3 separate regions of the Homo sapiens genome follow, and regions 1 and 2 are each linked to region 3. The links come from fine-mapping of genetic effects on gene expression. A gene starts in region 3. Each other region holds a variant in brackets. All regions are shown on one strand. Distances are from middle to middle.

The links.
Region 1: its variant is fine-mapped to the expression of STON2 in cerebellum (GTEx, PIP above 0.99).
Region 2: its variant is fine-mapped to the expression of STON2 in monocytes (Quach 2016, PIP 0.95).

What each region holds. Positions count from the first base shown.
Region 1 is chr14:81,340,179-81,346,381 of GRCh38, reverse strand. All of the region lies in intron 4 of STON2 (stonin 2), which reads left to right. Among named protein-coding and RNA genes, the nearest start is that of STON2, 57 kb to the left of the region's middle. The variant A/G (reference allele first, on the strand shown) is at 3,074.
Region 2 is chr14:80,443,292-80,449,494 of GRCh38, reverse strand. The region is part of intron 8 of DIO2-AS1 (DIO2 antisense RNA 1); the gene reads right to left. Among named protein-coding and RNA genes, the nearest start is that of DIO2, 230 kb to the right of the region's middle. The variant T/ATATATT (reference allele first, on the strand shown) is at 2,704.
Region 3 is chr14:81,397,176-81,403,378 of GRCh38, reverse strand. It overlaps STON2 (stonin 2), which reads left to right and starts at 3,055. Exons shown (of 8, transcript NM_001394390.1): 1 at 3,055-3,100; 2 at 4,799-5,084. The coding sequence starts at 4,997.

The sequences.
Region 1 (6,203 bases), 57 kb after region 3:
TTGTAATTCCTTGAGGTCTCTTTTTATAGTGACCTGTAGTCCGTCTTCTCATTGAAGTTGTGCTGACATTCTTCTTTACATTACAGATCCATTTGCACCCACCTCACTACCTCAGGGGCACCTCTTCCTTCTATTCTCAAATTACTCAGGTCCTGGAAAAAAAGCTCCTTTTTGATGTGATACTAAGATAAGTTTTCCCAAAAAATGAGAGTTAATGTTTCATATTTGCTTCAAAGGAGAGAATGACTTCACAACTTTCATTGGGTCAAAGGGACGAAACATCATAAAAAGTTCAGGAGACCGAGCTACTGGAAAAGAGCAGCTTTCTCTGATAGAATTTACTGCTGCTGAGCACATCTGCCATGAGACTCAAGAACAAATCACATCACCACTTTGTGATGCATCTGGAAACTCAGACAAGTGTTGCAAACAGGGCTGTCAACAAGATGTCAGCCCTTCCAGTGGCAGTACCAAGGATGCTCATTGGACTTTTCTTCTGTGAAATTGATAGCTGACTTTTCCTCAGGCTTATATGGAGTCTTATATGTATTAGTCTCCTAAGGCTGCCATAACAAAGTACCACAGACTAAGTGGCTTAAACAACAGAATTTTTTTTTTTTTGAGACAAAGTCTGGCTCTGTCGCCCAGGCTAGAGTGCAGCAGCATGATCTTGGTTCACTGCAACCTCTGCCTCCTGGGCTCAAACCATCCTCCCATCTCAGCCTCCCACATAGCTGGGACTACAAGAATGTGCCACCATGCTCGGCTAATTTTTGTTTTTTTGTAGAGACAAGGTTTCACCATGTTACCCAGGCTGGTCTCGAACTCCTGGGCCCCAGCCATCCTTCTACCTCAGGCTCCCAAAGTGCTAGGATTACAGAAATTTATTTTCTCACAATTCTGTGTCCGGAAGTCCAAGACCAAGGTGTCAGTAGAGTTGGTTTCTTCTGAGGCCGCTCCTTGGCTGGGAGATGGCCAGTTTTCTCCCTGTATCTTCACATGATCTCCCCTTTGTGGTGCCTGTATCCTAACATCCTCTTCTTATAAAGACAACATATTGGATTAGGGCCCACTGCAATGACTTCATTTCATCTTAAATACCTCTGTATGATACAGTCACAATTCTGAGGTACCAGGGTCAGGAATTTAACATGTATTGTGTGGGACACAATTCAGCCCATAATACTATGTAACTACAATTCAGAAGTTTCCTCCCAACCCTGCCCAAGATAACCAGTTTGACACTGTAAGCCCAACCTATATAGTATTTCTGGACCCATTATATGCATTGTCACAAGCTATAGGAGCTGGGTTTTGGATCCAACATTTATAGCTTACTTCCCACAGATGTAATAAGGAGGAAAGAGTTGTTTATGTTTAATAAGTCTCTCAATCAGCCTTTTCATCTGCTTACCTACAGAATGACTTGGTGGTTCGCCAAGGGATTAGTTTATCCCACTGCTCTCATTGGCTTACATGCCAATTCAAAAGTCAATACTACATTAGTTCATAAAAGAAAAACTGCAAAGAAAGGATATGAAAAACATCATTTAATCCCAATAATCAGCTGTGTGGATTAAACGGTAATGTCTATTGACTTGGTAAAGTTAAAATGCTTGAAAATATCTAGTGTTGAGAGTGGAGAATTGGGAATTTGCATGCGAGAACTGTGGGAAGATCTTTCTGGAAGGCATTCTTGGCAGTCAGTGTCAGTCTAAATGTCATACTCTTTAGCTATTAGTTTATCCCAAGGAAGTAATTAGACATGTGGCTGTGTGTACAGTACTGCAGTGTTTATATTAGCAAAAGCAAAGCCCAGCTATCTAAGCAAATGTCAAATAACATATGATACATACATACAGTGGAATACTATGCAGTCATGGAAATTATCCCAATTACATTGTTAATTGAAAAGGTAGGTTACAGAATAGAATGTGTAATCATTTTGCTGTATTGGCCTCTATTTAATTTTGCTATATTAGTGTGTGTGTTTATATGTATATTTCTAAATATCTAGGAAAAAGTTTGATAGGATATATCCCAAACTGCTAATAGTGGTTATCTAGAGGACATAGGACTTTTATTCCTTACTGCATTTATTTCTGTATAATTTGAGTTATTTATAATAAGTATACGTTAATCTAAAAATCAGAAAAAATTAGAATGAAAATATTTCTATTTTGAAATAAAATGAAATATCTTACGGGGACTATTTTTAAATTTCTTTTATGATAGATGTGTTTAGGGGCTGACCTGTTTGCTCAGGGGCTAGGGGCTGGCTTGTTTGCTTTGGGGAGGGCTAGTCTTTCAAATATTTCTGTCTTTTCCGTATGAAAGAGCCATGAGCTAGTGGTTAATTTCTCACCAGCATAATGCTAGTTCCGTATTCTTTACAGGACATAGGTATAGTATAATGGAAAGTCATAGTGTTCAGAGTTTGACAGAACAGGGTTAAACACCAGCTCTAACACTTCCCTGCTCTGTGATATTGGGCAAATCATGTAACCTCACTGACCTTTAGTTTCCTCAGCTGTAGAATGGAAATAATAATAATAATGATGACAATACTGAGCTGCAGGTTTGTTCTGAAGTTTAAGTGAGACCAGGTACATAAAATGCCTGGAATATGATAAGGAGTAGCTTTTATGAGTATGACAATATAATGTACTTTTCAGAATGCCTTATATTTTAAAACTAAGACTTAGTGAATGGGAAGAAAATTTTTTAAGGTTGTAGAAAAACAGCTGCATCTAACTAGAAAAAGTTTCATTTGATATCCTTGGCTAGTTTTCATAAAGGCGGTTTCTTTTATTCTTTCAGTTCTCATTGACTGAAGGGTGGGCTCACCCGATATGCTTTGTGAAATGCTTGTGTCTGTGGCATTTTGCTGCAGAATTGGAATCAGGAAGAAAAGCTTTCTTGAGAAGAGGTGGGAGGGAGGGTAGGGTGGGAGAAGGGAGATGCTGCCAGGTTTACTTGTATGAGTTGCCTCCCCTCTCCCCCTCCCCAGGACTGATTTGTTTGTACAAATTGGTTGCCGCAAGCAACACATTGTTAGTTTGAGCCAGAATGT[A/G]TCCCAGGAGACTTACTGCTTTCTCTTTTGCCAAATTATTGTCCTTTTCCCACAGAGGATGCTGGGATTGGGGGGCATTTTTCACTTTGGCATATATCAATCCAATTCTCCCCCTTTCCCTCAGTGTCTGCTATTTGCAAGGCACTGTGTCATTTCACCACATTTAGAATGCTACCAGTTGTGAGCTGTTAACTTTTATTTTCAACTTATGTGTTTTCTCCTAAACCCTCGGTACTGGTATCTAAGGAAAGAAGATGATATTCCTGGAGGAAGCATGCCCTACCCTCCCTGAGATGTGGTCTCCACTTATAACAGGATGGCTCTCCTGCCTCACTGACATAGGCATTGCCGCTTGACTTGTGTTGGGGCCAGTGGAAAGCAGGTGGAAGTGACATTTCCAGTGCGGATTTCTCTGTGCTTCCACCACCACTCTTTTTCCTCTGTCAAAACCACCCATTACTGCCTCACAGGTTGCCCCTCAGACCCTGGCTTGGACTCTGTTCTGGCGCTCTCTGGCTTCACTTGTCCCCATGCCCCCCCTTCTAGACCATGGTTCATGTACCCGGGACTCCAGGATCCTCTACCTAGGCAGACCCTGGCTCTCTTCTGTGGCCTCTTCCAAGATCTGTGCACCTAAGCGTGGACCATGCTGCTCTTGTGTGCCCCTAGACTTATGGGGACCGGGAATAGAGCTCAGATGTGTGGATCAGGAGGGCCCCACACAGCACACAGGGCCTTCACAGTGCAGGCTGGAGCAGTGCAGTGAACGGGGAAAGGGAAGGGAGCAGGCCTCAGGCCAGGGGCTACCTTGCCCTGCACTGTGACATTTCTGTGTGGAGCTCCAAGGATTCCGAGAAATCAAAAGTCCATTATGGGCTGGGCGCAGTGGCTCACTCCTGTAATCCCAGCACTTTGGGAGGCTGAGATGGGCGGATCACCTGAAGTCAGGAGCTCAAGACCAGCCTGGCCAATGTGGCGAAACCCCATCTCTACTAAAAATACAAAAATTAGCTGGGCGTGGTTGTGGGTGCCTGCAATCCCAGCTACTCAGGAGGCTAAGGCAGGAGAATCACTTGAACCTGGGAGGCAGAGGTTGCAATGAGCCGAGATCTCACCATGGCACCCGGGCAACAAGAGTGAAACTCCATCTCAAAAAAAAAACAAAAAAACTCCATTATGGCTTTCTGCGTTGTTATGAACATAATATTGGTCAAGGAGTATAACACATAATTTAACAGTCTAGCGTGGTTTATACTTTTAAATGCTTAAACATGTATTATGTGAGCCAGCATCTGAACTCCTAGATCAGTGCCTGTGAATGCCAGGGATGAGTCAGATGCTGTAGACAGGATCTGTTCTTTCAACCTGAGCCCTGAAATGAAAATGAGGAATGGAGCTGCAGGTGACCCTTGTTGGGTATAAATGGGAAAAATAAATCTTTGTGATTTTACGACATGAAGATTCTGAGATTATCTGTTACTGTGGCATAATTTAGATTAGGGTTATGGATTCCAAAAGGAAAAAGTGACATTTGTTGAAAGCTTTCTTACTTCACCTGTTTAAAATATAGTATTGGCAGAACTTTTGTTACAGTAGGTGGACTAGCACTATCTAGAAGAGTCTGAAAGGAATCCCAGGAGTTAATTGGAGCTCTGTGGGTGAGTGGGTATGTGCCCCATACACGCCCACTTGCTCCCATTGTGCCTTCTCAATTGCTAGTGTTCAAGTGCACTTTGAGGCCCTTTTTCCAGCAGTGATGATTTAGGTTAGTAATACATCAGTCTTGGCTTGCTTCCCTTGTGACCTCCCGGAAATAGGATTCAGGGCCAGACTTTTGGGAAAAAAAAAAAACAAAAAAAAAACACTTATAAAATGAGGAAATATAAAGCAAGAAGCATAGCTGATCTTATTTTTATTTTGCAAAATGTGTCCCTTATCTGTGAATTTACAATTAAACATATCCACCCAACCCTCTCCCTTCTTGTATCAACAAGCACCGTCCTGATGAATGCTTTTCAGGCCTATCAAATAGAAGGGAGTTGCTGGAGCTAAGAGTGAGGTCTTTCTGACTTGGAACAAAAGTCACCTGGTGCTCACTGGAAGTGAAACTGTGAACTTGGCCTAAGAAAATCAGATACAGACATTTGTAATAGTAGTTATGATCATTATCTTGTATGTGAAAAGTAACGTCTGTTTTCAAAAAGCTGTCACATACATGATTTTATTCATCCTTAATTACAGCCTGTGAGGTAAGCAGAAAAATGTCCTTCCTTTTTACAGAGGAGGACACTAGGACTTACTAAGTTTCAGTGATTTACCTACTGTTCTACTAGTATTAATATTGGTATTAAGAATATTAATATACCAATTATTAATATATTAACATGTATTATATAACATATTCCACTAGTGATTAGATGTTATGTAATAATCTATATAGTATATATTGATATATATTAATAGTATTTAGATAATTTATATAATGTCCTTGTCCAGGAGGCTAACTGCTATAAAAACCCAAGATTTCAGTGACTCAGCCTAGTTCATTTTCCATTCAAGCCACCGTTAGTGCGAGTTGGTGTCTGTGTGCAGTGCTCCAGAGTTCAGGAACCCAGGCTACTCTATGTCCTCAGAGTCATCTAGGTGGTGGGTGGGCTGTGGAAGTGTGCATCCTACTGGCCAGAACTCAGGGCCTGGCCACAGCTTACTGCCAGCGGGGCTGGAAAATGTGGTCCAGCTCTGTGCCCTGAAAGGACACAAATACTCACAAGACATCTGTGTGCCAAAAGCTATGGAAATCCGTAGTGCTCATCTCCCCTGATTTTAAGGGCCCTATTTAAGATCTATAGAGCCATTGTGTTTCTCTCCAGCTTTCAGGAGTGGAGTTTCATGAGTTTTGACACATGTACCCACCTGTGAAGTCATCACCATAATCAAGATAATGAACGTATCCACTAACCCCAATAGTTCCTCGTGTGCATTTATAATCACTTCCTCTCTCTCTGTCCCCCACCCCACCCCTAAGCACCCACTGCTCTGCTTTCTGTCGCTAGAAATTAGTTTGCATTTTCAAGAATTTTGTATACATGGACTCATTGAGTGGGTTCTTTAATTTGCCTGGCTTCTTTTA
Region 2 (6,203 bases), 950 kb after region 3:
TCAGACCCCAAGAGACTGTATTTTTCTGTCCACCCTCTTGTGCTCCTGTCTTTTGCTGGTACAGGGAGAACGACAGACATGTAATGTAAATTGCACTGTGATTCAAAGCCCGAAGCCCAGCCAACTACAAACTGAAGCAGATCCTTCCCTGGCTGACCCCCAAACTAGGGAGCAAGAAAATTATAGCTTTACTGTTGTAAAACTCTAGGTTTGCAGCAATATTTGACTAATACAGATGTGGAAGTGGGCAGAGACATGGAACATTCAAAAGTTATGTTGGAAAGAGGGCTAAGGACTCATTGAATGGAGGCATGAACAGAATATAAGAACGATCACATAAGCCGGGCGCAGTGGCTCACGCCTGTAATCCCAGCCCTTTGGGAGGTCGAGGTGGGCGGATCACAAGGTCAGGAGATCAAGACCATCCTGGCTAACATGGTGAAACCCCATCTGTCCTAAAAATACAAAAAATTAGCCGGGCATGGTGGCGGGTGCCTGTAGTCCCAGCTACTCCGGAGGCTGAGGCAGGAGAATGACGTGAACCTGGGAGGCGGAACTTGGCAGTGAGCCGAGATTGTGCCGCTGCACTCCAGCATGGTGACAGAGTGAGACTCTGTCTCAAAAAAAAAAAAAAAAAAAAAAAAGAACAATCACATAAACAGGCAGCAAGGGAGAAGGGAGTCAAAGCTGACTAACTGGTGAAGCCCAGGTTGAATGCTGACATTACTGGCTAAAATGACTATTTCAGTAACCATGGAATGATAAAGTTAAATGGGATCTTGAAATTATTTTTGATATTGCAATCTCCAAGGCAGAATTAGCATGCAGAATTATTTTGTTTGGCCAAGATAGTTTTTTTTAAATTTGAATTTGAATGCAGTGGACAGATCATACATCCTCCTGTTCCTTACGTTATCTACTTCTCGTTTTTCATCCTCCATACCGTCAAATGCATTTGAGATTATGCTCCCTGGCAATCTCATTACCACATATCCCCAGGCACATTAAAGATGACTGAGAGATATGCAAGTTATATGACAATAGCTGTATGAACTGAACACTTATGTGTTCAGACATTGTTTTATGTGATTTGTATGTTTTATCTCAAGAATCTTCATTTTGAAGATAGGGCAAAAGGAGTTTAAATGACTTGCCTGAGGTCAACAGTTGGAAGTGGAAGAGCCAATATTTGAATAGTCCAGTTTATTGAGCAGTTTCAACTTGGTCAGCTTAAACATAAATGAGATTATTGTTTGGTGAACGCTTTCTGCAGCTAACCTAATGCATCCTGCTTCCTTTCCTGAGACCACATCAATCTCTCTCTGTTTTTGTTTTTTTGTTTTTGTTTTTTTTTTTGAGATGGAGTCTCACTCTGTCACCCAGGCTGGAGTGCAGTAGCACAATCTCCGCTCACTACAATCTCTGCCTCCTGGGTTCACGCCATTCTCCTGCCTCAGCCTCCCGAGTAGCTGGGACTACAGGTGCCCGCCACCACACCCGGCTAATTTTTTTGTATTTTTAGTAGAGACAGGGTTTCACTGTGTTAGCCAGGATGGTCTCCATCTCCTGACCTCGTGATCTGCCTGCCTTGGCCTCCCAAAGTGCTGGGATTACAGGCATGAGCCACCGTGCCCGGCCGAGAGCACATCTCTTAACTGCAACGAGTGATTTCAGAGGATAGCTTTTTATTACACTCTCTTTGTTATATGGTCAAGGTAGAAAATCTACAGGTAAGCTGCTTTAAAGAATTTTTTTTTTACTACTTAAAAAAAATTAACTCTTCTGAATTACTTTTCCTTAAATAGCTGAACTGAACTATTACTGTTTTTTTTTTTTTAACATACTGTTAGCAAAACTGTGGGGAAACAGGTCTGATGATTCATGGGTGTAGCATACAAACCTACATGAACCCTTATGCAGGCATTTAGTTAGTATCTATCAAAATTTTAAATTCATACATCTGCTTTGACTCAGCAAATACACTTCTGGAAATTTGTTCCACAGAAATACTGCTTAGCTATGAACTGATGTTATTTACAAGGGTATTGTTTGAACAGCAAAAGTCTGAAAATAACCTAAATATCCATCAACTGGGGAGGGCTTAAATTAATATATGTCCATATAGTGGGATATAATGCACCTGTAAAAGTAAGATTGTTCTTCATGTAATGATGTGGAAAATTTATAAAAATTCTTGTTAAAAAAGTAAGGTGCATAAAGGTATGTAGGGTATACTCCTTTTGGTGTAAGGAAGGAGGAAACAGGTCAGGCATGGTAGCTCAGGCCTGTAATCCCAGCACTTTAGAAGGCCAAAGTGAGAGTAGCCAGGTGTGGTGGCACATACCTGTGGTCCCAGCTACTCAAAAGGCTGAGGCAGGAGGATTGCTTGAGCCTGGGAGGTTGAGGCGGCTGTGAGCCATGTTTGCACCACTGCATTCTAGCCAGGGCAACAGAATGAGACCCTGACTTGGAAGAAAAAAAAAAAAAAGAAGGAAACATATATATTTGTACTTGCATAATAAAACCCTGGAAGCATACACAAGAAATGAATAAATGTTGTTACCTTAGGATAGAAAGGGACAGGACAGGTGGGGCAGGTGTGGGAGAAAGATCTACACTGCATTTAAAAAAATACATTTTTAAACTGCACGAATGTGTTAAAACATTGAAAAACAAAGCAATCACTGTTTTATATATATATAT[T/ATATATT]AAAATATTAGAAATAGAGTCTGCATTCAACTACTAGATAATTACTCATTTTTGTGGATTATCCATTAAAAATGTTGATAGTTGGAGAAAAGCACTAGACTTAAGCATCAGGTGTTTTGAATCTGGGTCTATCAATTACTAATTGTGTGATCTCCAGTCAGTCTCTTCTTTTTGGAATTGTTTTCTCATTAGGAAAATTTGTTAAGCCAGATGGTTTCTGTTCTAGTTCTGAGTCACTCTTTTCTCCCCCTTAGCAAATGACTGGGGAATGCAACACAATCTTGACATTTCCCTTCACAAAACTTGATTGGAAAGACCACCACTTTTGCATTTTGGCATCAGGATTCTTTGTCTGGAAGCAAGTGAAACTGACCCTGTTTAGCTTAGGCACAAAGTAGCTCATAGAGTCAAGGGAGAGCTGGAAAACCAAAGAGAAAGTTTGTGTATTTCCTTCCAGGGCACTCAATTGAAGGACTTCTTTTAACTGCCTTGTGCAACTGCATGTTTGCGATAAAGATTCAAATTCCCAGAAGAAAAAAAAATAATGAACTCTGAAGTTAAGGGAGCAGCGTTCTGCCATTGAAGCCACTTCACAACCTCATGCCATTAGAGATAAATGATGCTGTAATGAAAGGATGTTGGGCAAACAGAAACAATACCTATCCAGGGAAGCATTCTCCTTGTTAGAGCTGCTCTTCAGCCATCTAGTTGATTGGAGCTGATAGACCCTATCTCATGTATCTTAGTCTCTTTGTGTTGCATAATGGAATACCTGAGGCTAGGTGATTTATAAAGAAAGAAAGTTTATTTGGTTCTTTGGACTGTACAAGAAGCACGGCACCAGCATCCACTTGTTGCGAGGGCTTCAGGCTGCATCCACTCATTGCAGAAGGAGAAGGGGAGCCACACTATGCAGAGATCACATGGCAAGAGAGAGCAGGCGGAGGTGCCAGGCTCTTTTCAGCAACCAGCTCTCTGGAAAGGTAGGGGGAAACTCTTGCAGGAACTCATGGAGTGAGAGCTCACTCATTACAATGAGGATGGCTCCAGGGTATTCATGAGGGATTCACCCTCATGACCCAAATACTTCCCTTTAGGCCCCACCTCCAACAATGGGGATCAAATTTCAGCATGAGATTTGGGGGGACAAATATCCAAACTATATAATGTGCACATGTAAACCTCAAGGCCAAAACAGTGGTGTGTGTGAAAACAGTTAAAGCTCGGATAGATCTTGTTATTGCTGTGAGAAGAACTGGTGGCTCAAGCTGCTATATCATCATGGTAACCTAAGGCTAAGGGAAGACTATCCTAGGGCTTGGGGGGTAATTCTTAAAACTGATAAACACATAAAATTCACAGGTACTCAAAACTATGACTGTGATATTCATCATCTCAGTGATGGTTAATATTGAGTGTCAACTTGATTGGATTGAAGGATGCAAAGTATTGTTCCTGGGTGTGTCTGTGAGAGTGTTGCCAAAGGAGATTAACATTTCAGTCAGTGGACTGGGCAAGGCAGACCCAACCTCAATCTGGGTGGGTACCATCTATTCAGCTGCCAGTGTGGCTAGAATAAAGCAGGCAGGGGAAGTTGGAAAGAGAGACTTGCTGAGTCTTCCAGACTTCATCTTTCTCCCATGCTGGATGCTTCCTGCCCTCAAACATCAGACTACAAGTTCTTCAGCTTTTGGACTCTTGGACTTACACCAGTGGTTTGCTAGGGGATCTCAGGCCTTTGGCCACGGACTGAAGGCTGCACTGTTGGCTTCCCTACTTGTGAGGTTCTGGGACTCGGACTGGCTTCCTTGCTCCTCAGCTTGCAGATGGCCTATTGTGGGACTTCACCTTGTGATATGTGAGTCAGTTCTCCTAATAAACTCCCCTTCATATATACATATATCCTGTTAGTTCTATCCCTTTAGAGAGCCCTGACTAATATAATCTCATAATAGTTTTTGAACTGAATTTCTGAAATTCAACAAGTAACTTTTGCAAAGGACTACCATGTGGCACAGAAGTTTTTGTCCTGAAATTGTCTACCTTTGCAGCAGTTGGACTTTTTCACTGAGATTTGCCCCTGTTGGTTACTTCATGGTCTTTCCTCCAATGGTTACTCTTCCAGTTCTTGCTGAAAGTCAATTCAGAATTGTTTTCTGAATGGGAAGCAACATCTCTGATCAAGCAGTGTAATTCCTAGCTTATATAGATGAGAAAACTGAATTCCAGAGAGGTTATATAAATTGCCCCGGGTTACACAGCTAGTCATCCAGTCAGTCCAAGCTCACATAGACCATCAGCCAATCCTAATTTTAGTGCTCATTTTAGGTGGATCTAGCCTATGGATAGAGAGGTAGGGGCCACTCTGACAAATTTCTGAATATATCTCATAGTCCTTGTGCTGTTCTTTTTTTCTTTTTAAAAATTTTAACATTTAAAATTTTTATGGGTACATAATAGGTGTATATACTTATGGGGTACATGAGATATTTTAACACTGGCACATAATGTGTAATAATCACATCAGGGTAGATGGTGTTTCAGTCACCTCCAGCATTCATCATTTCTTTCTGGTTATGAACAATTCAATTTTACTCCTGCAGTTATTCTGAAATGTACAAAAAATTATAGCTAACTGTAGTCAACCTGTTGTACTATCAAGTTCCAGGTCTTTCTCATTCTATCTAACTATAATTTTGTACCCATTAACCATCCCCATTTCACACCACTTCCTACTACCCTTCCCAACCTCTGGTAATCATCATTCTATTCTCTATCTACCTGAGTTCAATTGTTTTAATTTTTATTTCCCACAAATAAGTAAAAACATGCAAAGTTTGTCTTTTTGTGCCTGGCTTTTTTCAATTAACATAGCTTCCTCCAGGTTAACCCATGTTGTTGCAAATGACAAGATCTCTTTCGTTTTTATGGCTGATTGCTCTATTGTATATATGTACCACATGTTCTTTATCCTTTCATCTGTTGATGGTCACTTAAGTTGCTTCCAAATCATAGCTATTGTGAATAGTGCTGCAATAAACATGGAAGCACAGATATCTGATACACTGATTTCCTTTCTTTGGGGTATAGACGTAGCAGTGGGATTGCTGGATCATATAGTAGCTCTGTTTTTATCTTTTTGAGAAACATCTATACTGTGCTTCACAGTGGCTGTACTACTGCTTTACATTTCCTCCGGCAGTATACAAGAGTTCCCCTTTCTCCACATCCTTATCAGCATTTGTTATTGCCTATCTTTTGGATGAAAGCCATTTTAACTGGGGTGAGATGATATCTCATTGTAGTGTTGATTTGCATTTCTCTGATGATCAGTGACGTAGAGCACCTTTTCATATACGTGTTTGCCATTCTATGTCTTCTTTTGAGTAATGTCTATTCGTATCTTTTGCCCATTTTTTAATCAGATTATTAGATTTTTTTTCTATAGATTTGTTTGAGCACCTTATATATTCTGGTTATTAATCCCTTGTCAGATGGAT
Region 3 (6,203 bases):
TGCATATTATAAAGGTTTTATGGCAAAATAATTTGTGTTCTTTATCTTTGCATTCAGTGATTGCCACTTGGCATAAATGCTTGTTGAGCCAAGCCTGAGATAATGATTGAGCTAAGACTTGAAGGTGAGCAGGAGCTCATGAAATAAAAATGTAGGGAAAATGTATCCCAAATATAGTATTTAATAATGTATTAATATATGAACAAGTGATCGAATAGGACAAAGTATATTAAAAAACACAGTCTTTCAAATAACTCAGTTCATCAGGAATATAGGATTCACAAGGGGAGAGAATGACACATGGGATTAGAGAGGTGGATCAGGGCCAGATTCACAAAGTGCCTGCATTTATACGACAATTTTTATTGAGCTGCTAACCTGTGCCAGGCACTATGCTCAATGCTGAGGGTATAGCATGCAACCCCTGCTCTCAGGAATCCTTTGTTCATTTCTCATACCTCATTTTATCCTGTGAGGAGACTTTGAGGAGCTGTAAGCAGAGCTGTAGCATAGCCATTTTCAGGTTTTAGGAAGATAACTCTACCATAATAGGCTGGATAGTAGGTTTGAGCAGGTGATACTGAAGGCAGGGAGACAGGTAGGAGACTTGCAACTGTCTGCGTGAGAGATCATGAGGGGCTGAGCCAAGGCATTGGCAGTGGGATTGGAGAGGGTAAGCTCCAGAGCTCAAACTCGTTCTGAAACTTAGAGCTCCTTTTCCAGGATGCTTGACACCCTCTTCAGATGAACAGAGTGTAACTCACTGTGGGCTAGACATACCATTCCTGCTCCCCCTTCCTGAGTGCCTGTGCCCCTCAGCTCTTTTGCTCAGACCCCTCCTTTCCGGCTTAGGGTACAGTTCAAGACCACCTATAGCTCAAGCTCTCAGAAGTCTCTTAACACTCTTACTTGCTGCTGTCCTACTTTTGGTGACTAACCACCAGAATAGGTTAGAGAGCAGAGGTTATTGTTTTAGGTTGCTGTGGTATCTCCCTGCAGTTGACAGCTGCTTGAGGGCAGAGATGCTGTTTTGTTCTCCCTTGACCCTCAGGCCCTAGAATGGGCAGAAACAGTACATGTTCCTGATGACTGTGCCCCCCAACTTTGTGAGACACACCGGAGGTACTGATGGCTGAAAAATTCCATCACCACGCTTCTGTCCAGCACTGTCTGAGGAAGGCTTATCTCCCTTAAGCACACTTCTTGAGTCACTCTCTGCTTTTAAACCTCCCACAGCTTCTCATTTCCCCTTGAACTCTCCTTAGCTTTTATGGTCAATCAATCCCTTCACTCCATATTCCCCCAGTAGATACCTCTGCTCTCATCAGACAGAGGCTTGTTCAGACAGAAACACACCTTGTTAAGGTCTGCTTCTGATTTTTACTGTCACTTGCGGTGATCCCCTGTCCAGAGGCTTCCCTCACTTGTCCCTCTGTTGGTCCAGAATCAAGGACATCCTTCACATCTCAGAAACCCACCCAGTCCCATATGGTTCCAACTCTCAGAGATCTCCCTACGGCTAAACTGTGGCAATTAGAGGACTGTCATAAGACAAAACTACTTCTATGACCCCCATCTTATCAGACAATTGCATTCTCCCTTCTACAAATTTTTGTATAATGCTGAGAAAGAAGTAGCTCTCTGAAATGGCAACTCCAAGACTTCAATGAAACTTTTAGCATCTGTTGGTCAATCCTCCTGCTGATACTGAGTCACCACTCATTTGTGGTGATTCTAAACCTCATTTTATGATTCACATTCTAAAAATGGGGTGAGGTTTTTACCAAGCAACTAATTCCAGTATGAACTTAACCTCACAATTATTGGGTTCTTCTGTGGGTTTCCAGCTGCTTAGCACAGCACTTTTCAAGGTCTGATTTCTTATGGCTTATTGGTGTGGCTCTTCCATGGCAAATACCTAAAATCCATTTTATGGATTTATGGTATGGAATATGATGGGGGGTTCCATGTGATCAATTTGTTCCACCAGTCTTCATTGGGACCACTCATTGTCTGTCACCAGCCCATGTCTGGTCTGGGACAAGTGAAGGAAGGATAGATAAAGTTTTGGGGCTCTTTTTTCGTTCATACGTTCTGAGGAATGGTCTTGGTACTTTGGCCAGAATGCACCTATATCTATAATGAAGAGGATTTAGAATCTGCCTTCTGGGCACTGTAGCTGAGCACATGACTCTACTTAGCATTTTGAACAATGACTGAAACCAGATTCTGCAAATGACAGAAATGCAGTGGTTTCATGAAATCTGCATTCCAGTCCCAAGACTTCTACGAACAAGTTACGCAACGTTGGGCGAGTCATTTAACAATAGCAGCAGTGCTGGCGATGGCTAACATTGGTTTGGAATGGAGCCTGGGGCACAGTAAGCCCTCTGTAAGGTCACCTGCTGTTTTCATTGTCATCGTTACAGAGGGTTTATTACATCCAGTCCTTAGTACTTGGCGTACATTATCTTGTTTAATCCTCGGAATTATGGAGTGAGTTTTATTATTCTTTCTGTACAAGGTTGAACTGAAGCTTAAAGAGGTTGAGTTATGAGTCCACGACTGTATAGGACTCCAAGACTGTATAGGACTCAAATCCGAACAACCTAACTCCTGGGCCTGTGATCACAATCTCTATTCGTGTGCCTGATTTCCTTGGGCCTCAGTTTTCTCATAACACCTGAAGTTGTTGATCTTTAAAACCTTTCAGTTTAAAATTTTTAAATATTTTCCTCTTACCTTCACCTTCGTCCCCTGTTCTCTTCCCTACCCCACTTATCCATGACTTTTGCTGGGTTCATCATTGCAGGATTGGCAGGATGTTTTCCCCATTGAGTGATGACACTGCATGTGTCAGCATAGGGACTTGTATTGTGGGTTTTTTTTTTTTTTTTTTTGACGGGTGCTGTGGGGCTGGTTTACATGCTGCTGTCGTTGAAAGAGGAGGAATCTGACTCTTCAATTTTACTGCCTTATCTTGGCCCGCAGCCATTACCACATTGAGTGACACACATTTGACAGGGCTTGAGAAAGTCGTCAAAGGCAGAAGCCAGTGGGAATCAGCTCTTTGTGCTTGTGGACCCTGCACTGCTCTCTGGTAAGATCTGGTTTGGGAGACCTGCTCTCTCCAGGCTGTTTGCCTATGTCTGGCCTTGTGGTTGGCAAGGATCCTAGGAGAGGGACTTGGAGAAGAGGCTTCTGGGCTTCCCATCCTTTATACAGCTTGGGGTGTGCTGGCAAACTTTCACATGGGGAGTTTCCCGGACATTTCATTACAGTTCCATTGTAATTGATATTTGTAAAGTACTTAAGTTGGGTGATAGTCTATATGTACTGTATTCTGTTGTACTTCTTTGCGGCTGTGACACCAGGGTTAGAGTGTTTTGGCTGCAGAAGACCTGGGCTCAAGGGTTGGATCTATCACTTAGTGTGGTGCTTCAAACACACCTGCTTGTTATGGCTTTTACTTGATTATTCTTTGGGTGAGATCTTATTATGAAGAAAAGTCAGCCACTGTGCTGAGATTTGTAAACTCTTCCACTTAGCCTGGAGGAAGCATTTTACCAAAAGGGCCTGGAAGCACTAAAAGTATTAGGTAAGTCACTTAATTTTTCTCAGCCCAAATTTCTTTATCCATAGAAGAATTAGAGTACTATGAGTCCTACTCATCAAAATGGCTACTGAATCAAGTGAAGTATGGTATGAAAATGTGTTTCTGAAAATTATAAATTCTATATAAACATTAGTTGTTTTTAGGAAGCATCATATGCCAAAACTGTTTTAAACACCAAAAAAGCAAAAGCTGTTCATGTTTTTACCGATTTTCCCACCTAGAGATTATTTACTGCAGATGATAACCTGTAGTAAAATTTCCTAAACTTTTCATTGTGCAGCAATTGGAAGACTGTGAGTTAAGTTGTTCTAGAAACTATCTGAATATTGTGTATATTTAGTTAATAAGAACTGATATTGTTCAAGGTATATAGTAGCTCTTCTATGGAAGCACATTAATTTTAGATAAATTCAGATTTTATTAATTCATTATAAATCATTATTAGATCAAGAGCTAGGTTCAGGTTGTAAAAAGATATTAATACCATGAACAAAATTATGTCAATTAAGAATCTTTCTGTATTCCTAGAACATAATTGCAGTGTGAGCAAAGGCTAGACCATTGTAACTAATTTAAATAGGCCTAGATTGAAAATGTTACTCTAACTCACATTTTTCACTACCACAGATGTTCCCTATCCTCTTACTCCAAATGAACAAGATCACTTCATTTCTATTTTTCTTGATTGATAAACCATGCTTGGAGATACCATCTGGAGATTGTTGGGTTTCTGCCAGAGATTTAAATCAGGTTTATAAAGAGTTACCTGCCTAAGGCAAGAAACTGGACTAATTTAATAGAAAAGAACATGCTTTTATTTTGCCAGCTAGTAAGAGAAAGTGAAAGCATTTTGAAAAGTTTTAATATTTGTTTAGCAATGATAGTATTATAGATGACAATATTTCTAAAATACAATAATTAGGGAAATTAGAGAATCTAATTGCTGAAATTTGTGTAATTATTTGCAAGTGTGATATGAAGGCTTATCTAGAAACCTTGATGCTAAAGACAGACATTTCAGTATAAAAGGTGAGGGCATGACAGGAACAGAGTGAAGTAAGGCAAGTTGGAAACCACCCCAAGCCTTCTTGTGGGCAGCGCTAAAAGCCCTAGACCTATGTGGATTCAGTGTAATGTGATGGTTATCCTTTTTAATTTTTTGTTTGTTTGTTTGTTAAACAGATTTCTGCCTGGCAGATTAACCAACGGCAAGAGAGGCTGATCTGTCTACATTCTGAGTACTGCCCTTGGCAAGACACCTAGAACAGACCCTGGACCCAAGTCTACCGTACTACCATACCCCTACTCCAGCCCACCCCAGACAGTATTCTGGGGTTCACCTGAGGTCAGCAGTGTGAAGATGACCAGTGCCTTTTTAGCATGACGACTTTGGACCATGTGATTGCCACCCACCAGTCAGAATGGGTCTCCTTCAATGAAGAGCCACCCTTTCCTGCCCACTCGCAGGGTAAGGAGTGCCTTCGTTTCCTAAAGTGAAGAGATTGTCAAAGAACCATGTCTATTTGTTATGGCTTCTACTTGATTATTCTTTGGGTGGGATCTTAATATAGAAAAAAGGGTCAGTTTCTCACTTTCTTTCTTGAGATCTTAGAATCCTAAGTGGAAGAATTTACACACTGAAAAAGCATCTTGGGAACCTTAGGGCCCTAAAAAGAGGCTTGGAAACACCAAAGGTAGTGGCTCTTTTCTCCCAAGAAACAAAAACTTAATATTTACCAAATACTTTACTCTCAGCCTTTTTAAAATGTAGTTATTAAAAGTAGTTGTTAAAAGTGACAGGCTCTGGAGCCAGAGTGCTTGGGTTCAAATCCCTGTTGCACCAGGGATGAGTGATATGCTTTTGGGTAGATTATTTATTTAACCTCTCCATGCATAGCTTCATTATCTGTACAGTAGGGATAATCAGTACCTATCTCACAGGTTGCTGTGAGGCTTAAGTGAATTCATACATAAAAGTGCTTAGAGCAGTGCCTGGCACGTGGAAAGAGCTCAGTACGGTCATCCTTGATCATAAGGAGGATGACTATATTGACTTTGGAGAACTTGTGCTCAGGGATGAAGGTCAAGGTAGGATCCAGGAGATATTTGCAGAGACATGTGAGTTGGTTCTGTTCTACTACAGCTACCAGTGCCAACTGAAGTCATCCCACCGTCATTTATAACACCTAGAAAGTGTGAGTCGACAGGTATGCTCTCCAATATGGTGGCCATGTGGTTACTGAGCCCCTGAAATGTGACAAGTCTGAATTGGGATGTGCTGTAAGCATCAGATACCTATGCTAAATTTCAAAGACCTAGTTTAAAAAAATTAAATAGCTAATAATTTTATATTTCTTACATGTTGAAATTATAAATTTTCAGCATTGGGTTGAAATGTGTATTATTAAAATACTTTCTCCTGTTGTGTTTAATTTTTTTCATGTGGCTACTAGAAAATTTAAAATTACATATGTAGCTCACATTTTATTTCTGTTTGACGTGCTGTAGAGGCTTTGAATACTTGCAGATGGACCGGTTGGCTAGTGATGGGAGAAAAGATTTTATATTAATTATTTGATTAAAAACC